Regions from separate parts of the Homo sapiens genome. Here region 2 is linked to region 1. The links come from fine-mapping of genetic effects on gene expression. A gene starts in region 1. The other region holds a variant in brackets. All regions are shown on one strand. Distances are from middle to middle. Region 1 holds the start of SH3PXD2B (SH3 and PX domains 2B). Region 2 overlaps SH3PXD2B (SH3 and PX domains 2B).

Evidence for each region.
Region 2: its variant is fine-mapped to the expression of SH3PXD2B in whole blood (INTERVAL, PIP above 0.99).

What each region holds. Positions count from the first base shown.
Region 1 is chr5:172,453,034-172,455,937 of GRCh38, forward strand. SH3PXD2B (SH3 and PX domains 2B) reads right to left here and starts at 1,492. Exons shown (of 13, transcript NM_001017995.3): 1 at 1,245-1,492. The coding sequence starts at 1,319. RefSeq lists an enhancer at 458-979.
Region 2 is chr5:172,421,342-172,424,245 of GRCh38, forward strand. It overlaps SH3PXD2B (SH3 and PX domains 2B), which reads right to left. Exons shown (of 13, transcript NM_001017995.3): 2 at 1,075-1,155. Among named protein-coding and RNA genes, the nearest start is that of SH3PXD2B, 32 kb to the right of the region's middle. The variant C/T (reference allele first, on the strand shown) is at 1,317.

The DNA of each region.
Region 1 (2,904 bases):
GCGGAGTGGGTTCCCGGCTATCTCCTTTCAGAATTTCACAGGCTATTCACGGAAGGCATGCAGATCTACTTTGTAAGAATTAGTTCTTAAAAAAAAAAGATCTGAAGACGACTTCCAGGGAGGCCAAGGAGCTTAATTTAGCCAGCCAACGCCCTTTTCTATTCATTGTTCTATACTTCTTTGTTAGGATTTTTTCCCTCCCTCTTACTCTTTTTCCCTTCCTGGTTAACTTCTCTGCAGCCAGGCTCCGCCACTGCCCACTTCTCACCGCCAGAGACACTATAGCCCCCTTCCCTGCTGTAATGAGGCCCTCCCCAAGGCCTCATGTGGGCCCATCACCCCACATCCCCTTTATCTCCACCTAGAACCTGCGAGGTGGTCCCAGGGCCTCCTGAATCTGCAGACGTGTCCCCTAGGTTGCTGCGGAAGCCACTTTCCACCTGCAGGTCACCGTCAGCCCCAGGCACCCCTGCTGGAGGGAGGGAAGCCCGAATGCAGCTCTATGTTCCAGGACCTGCAACCTCTGAGCCTCAGCCTTCCTATCTGCAAAACGACGCTACTGTCCCATTTTCTCAAGTCCTTGCCAGCTCCAAACAAGATTCCCATGTTCCAGAGGGAGATGCCAGGAGAAAACTTTCGTACATTTTAAAACAGAAGTTACTGGAGAGAGGGGGCAGGGGATGTTTTTAACCCTTTAAAGGCGTAGCCACTCAAATGATCCATTCCCAGAGATCTCCTCCATCGCCCAGGCCGGCTCTTGCCAAAGAACGGAGTCAAATTCGGCGAACCCTAGAGGGGCTACCTGTGGCTGGGGACTGCGGGTCTGCGCGCCTCTGGACAAGGAGGGGCAAGGCGGGCGGCCTGAGAACAGGCACTTCTGTCTCTCCCGCTTTCTGTCTCAGACCCCTCACCGGCTGGAGCCAGACTTTTCCACAGATGAGCAGGACGGGAGTTGGGGGGACACGGAGAAGACAGAAAGGGGTAGAGGAGCCGCAGGGAGGCGAGTAGGGGGGCGAGGCGGGAGGAAGGGATGGAGGGGGAGAACGAGGCAAAAGCGGGGAGGGGAGGGGAGGGAGGGAGGAGGAGTCGGGAGGGACCCGGGCAGCGCCGCCGCAGAGCCGAGGGGAGAGCAGGGGAGGAGGGGACGGGAAGCGCTGGAGGCAGAAGTTTTCCAAGCCGGGGGCCCTCGGTCGCCCCCGACGGGGCGCGGGCTCAAGGGGGCGTGGGGGCCGCGCCGCACTCACATAATGCTTGTTGGGCACCCGCCGCTTCTGCACGTCTAGCACCTTCACCTCCACGATGCTGCGCCGCGGCGGCATGGCCGCTCCTCCGCCCGCAGCGGGCCGAGCGCGGGTGCGGGTGGCGCGGGGTGCAGGGAGCGCTGGGGGCGCGCCGCCGCGGGCAGGGAACCTGGAGCTGAGCGCAATCGCAGCCGGGGCCGAGCACGAGCCGCCGCCGCCACCGCCGCCGCCCTTCGCTCGGCGCGCACTCCAGCCGGGCCCAGCCGCCGCCGCCCGCCCCCGGCCCGCCCCCCGCACCGCCCCCCGCACCGCCCCCCGCACCGCCCCCCGCGCCGCCGGCCCGCCCCCCTTAAAGGGCCCGGCCCCGACCCCCGCCCACCGCGCGCGAACCCCGCCGGCCACGTCCGGCCCCCGCCCGGCCTTTGTCCCGGTGCTGAGCCGCCGCGCCGGGGGAGGGGACTGGACTGACCCCGTCGCCCGTTCACTGATTGACGTATCGATTCATTCCAGCACTCTCGCTCCGGCAGCCGCCATCCACCGCCAGTTTGGAGAGCCGGACACCCGGGTTCGAATCCCGGCTTTGCCGCTTTTCCACTCTGTGCCCTCGGCAAGTTGCTTAACCTCTCTGGGTTGGGTCTCTTCGTCTATAATATGAGCCTAGTAGTACAAGCACCATGTTTGTCTTTTTGTGTCTGGCTTATTTCACTCGGCATAATGTCCTCAAGGCTCATCCATGTTGTAGCACGTGTCAGTAGTACCGCCTGCCTGCCGGTGCTGCGCCCGGGATTAAGTGCATGTGAAGCCATTCCGCAGTGCAGTCCATGGTATGAGTGCTGGCGTTCCTAAAGCCACCCCAAGCCCTGGTGATTCAGGAGGAGCAAGAGACCCGTGACCAGGTTCCCCCAGCCTCAGTCTGGGACATGGGGAGTGAGGGAGAGAAAAACTGCAACAAATGCGCATACGTGCAATGTAATTGCCATGGAAGCAACAAAAGGGGATAAAAGGGTGGTGACTATGTGTGAGGGGCAGCTGGGTGCTTGTTAGCAAGGCCATCGATTTCCAGTTGCGGAGCACTTAACTGCTCGCTGGGCCCCGTGGCCCCTGCTTTTCACAAATGCTGTCTTTGCATCCTCAGGCAGACTCTAGGAGGAAAAGGTGTTTTTACAGAGGACGGCCTCCAGACATTTGGACATTTCCAATGAGGCCTGAGGACCCTCTGACTTGGGAACTGTACTTCAGAAGAATGTGCCTTACAGGAATTACATCAGTGAAGGTCCAGAGTCAGGGAGCCGGTGGATGGAGCCCGTCACTGCCTGGCTCTAGGTGGATCTCACACGTTGAAGCTGCCGTGGCTGGGGCAGCTCCTCGTTTCTTCATCTAGTGCCTCCTAGCACTGGCTGGGCACTGAGTCACTTTCAGGAGATGTTGGCTGAATGAATGGATAAATGAATATATAATGCATGGATGGGAGGTTTAGGCTCCTGGCCAGTGTTTTCACAGCCAGTAAGTGGGGGCTCTTTTCAACAAACCGTACGACTCTTCTCCATGCCACGACAGAGCTACTTCCCACCCCGGTCCAGGATCAGCCTTTGGAAAAGGGTGGGCTTATCCAGGGTAGGACGGCTCTCAGCCTCGGCCAGGCCACGTGGATGATTTGGGCTGA
Region 2 (2,904 bases), 32 kb before region 1:
TGTTCACATTCTGCCTGGCTCCCTATAAGACTGGTAGTATACATGGTGTTCGTTCATTCATTCATTCATTCACCAAACACTGACTGGACATATACTGTGTGTTAGGCCTTGAATAAACTATTAAGGACAGACAGGAAGAGAAAGATGTGGTTCTGGCCCACAATAGTCACAGTCTAGGCAGGGAGACAGACAAGCAGACAGCTTCAATACAGAGAGACACACAGAGCTGTAGGGGCACAGAATGGGTGGCCCTCGCTGGCCAGGGAACAAAGGCAAGGTTTCCTAGGGGATGAGAGTCCTGAAGGGCAGAAGGGGTTACTGGAGCCATGAGTGAGCCGGGAAGGCACAGGAGTGTGTGGGGAGGGCAAAGGCCTGTGGAGAGAGGCCAAGGTGAGGCAGGAGATGCAGGTCTGTCTTCAGAGCTGAATGGCCCCAAAAGTCTAGACACACTCAACAAACCCAGCTCACCAGCAAACACGATTATTGTTTAAAACTTAAGTTCAAACACTGCATGCCAAAGCCATTTGGAAATGATTTCCAGATTACCCTCCATTCTGGAGCAGTTAACAGGCACCCTTTCTCTTATGGAGGAAATATGAAATATCAAAGCATAAAGCAACAAAGCACATTATTTGTGTCTCAAAAGTAATGGATGTCATTTTTTTTTTTTGAGATGGAGTTTTGCTCTTGTTGCCCAGGCTGGAGTGCAATGGCACGATCTCGGCTCACTGCAACCTCTGCCTCCCGGGTTCAAGCAATTCTCCTGCCTCAGCCTTCCGAGTAGCTGGGATTACAGGCACCCGTCACCGCACCTGGCTAATGTTTGTATTTTTCGTAGAGACGGGGTTTCACCATGTTGGCCGGGCTGGTCTCAAACTTCTAACCTCGAGTGATCCACCCACCTCCGCCTCCCAAAGTGCTGGGATTACAGGTGTGAGCCACCACGCCCAGCCATGGATGTCATTTTTAAGTCTGGGAAATTAAAAAAATTCTGGACTCTAAAGCTGTAGTGGAATGTAAGTCCAATTAAACTCTTTCCGATCCTGCAGCTCACCAGAGACCTCAAATCCTTACCTGGAGGTCAAAAAACTTGCTGTAGCGCCGGTAAATGGCCTCGGTGGAGCCGCTGGACCACGTGACCCGGATGATGTAGACCTGCGGGAGCAACAGAGGAGATGGGTGTTAACACCAGAAGGTGGTCTCCCAATCTCTGGGACCCAGGGGGAGCACAAGACTCAGAGTCAGAAAGACGTGGGTTTCAGCCTTAGCTCTGCCAATGACTGGCTGGACAAGTTGCTTGCTGTAAGACTCATCTC[C/T]CTCCTCAATAAAATGAGTGTAATAACCCCCAACAGAGTTGTGCAAAGGATGAATGACATCAAGTATGGGGATGCAGTGGCACCACATCAGCTCAGGAGAAGCTGCTGTTTTCGGCATTGCCAGGATTCCTCACTACCCGCTCAGTTCAGTGAGAGACAGGCTGGCTATCTTGCCAGTCATTCCTAAAACCTTGACTTTCATCAGGAGAAGTCACGGAGACGTGCAGCTCTTGGCCATCTTATATCTTCCACAGGCCAGCCCATCATGCTGTCTCCACCGACGAGGACCTAGGCCAAGTTATTTTTTCCCCGAGTCCCAGTTTCTCCTGTGAATGGGGCTAACAGCACCTGCTTCCTCTGCCTCCTCTGCCTCCTCTGCCTCCCAGGATAGATGTGAGGTGCTGATGAAATTAAGGATGAAGGACCATTTTATAAACCAGTGGGCTGTGCTTCCAACCTGTGTCACACGTCACGGCACGCACAGAAAACAATACATTGATAACAAGCCCGGGCAAACTGAGGTGACTATTAGAGGTCAGAGGTGCCTGGCTGGGGCCTTTGGTGGCCCCGGACACACCAGGTAGACACCTAAGGGCTAAGGGATCAGCATACCTGTGACCCATTCCTGGACTGCATAAACTATCTGTTGCTATAGGGTAGTTGTGACAATTAAAATATATGCACAAGTGAAAGCTGTTTGGAAACAAAGAAATGTCATAGAAACACAAGGCGCTCAGTGCTGTTAGAAGCCCTGGGGTTTCACAGGCAGTGTCCCTGTCCTCCATGAGGTGACGGTTAGAAGGAGAGACAATGCATACATAAGTGAAGATGACTGACTCCTGGAATCCTCCTTCCCTACCTTCAGCTCACCCACTTGGATACGGGGTTGGGGGGGGGGGCGCACATTCTCTGTTCATGGTGATTGGTTGAAGGGAGAACATGTGACTTGAGCTGGGCCAATCACAGCCAGTAGGAGTCTGTCCTGGGACTTTTTTGGTTTGGTTTCTTTTTGGAGAGGGAGTCTAGCTCTGTCACCCAGGCTGGAGTGCAGTGACACAATCTCGGCTCACTGCCTCCCGGGTTCAAGAGATTCTCGTGCTTTAGCCTCCCGAGTAGCTAGGATTACAGGCGAGCGCTACCGTGCCCGGCTAATTTTTGTATTTTTAGTAGAGACGGGGTTTTGTCATGTTGCTCAGGCTGGTCTCGAACTCTTGACCTCAAGTGATCCACCTATGTCGGCCTCCCAAAGTGTTGGGATTACATGCTTGAGCCACCGCGCCCGGCCCGCCCTGGGACTTTTGCTCCAACTCTGGAGAAAGCCAAGCTCTTCTCCTGAGGTTGACAGGCTGTCAAGATGTGGAGCTGCTGGGGGCTACCCATCCTCACTGGGGGTGGGGGGGAGCCTGCCTGAGAAAGGAGCCACCATCCCGATGACACAGTCTAAGCTTACATCCAGCTCTGCCTGAAGCTAAATTTATTCCTGGACTGTCCAGTTTCCTGGGCCAATAATTATGTCTTGGGCCACATCCACTGTCTTGAATAACTTTTGTGGCCAGTTCAAGTTGGGTTTCTGACCCACGTAATCCAG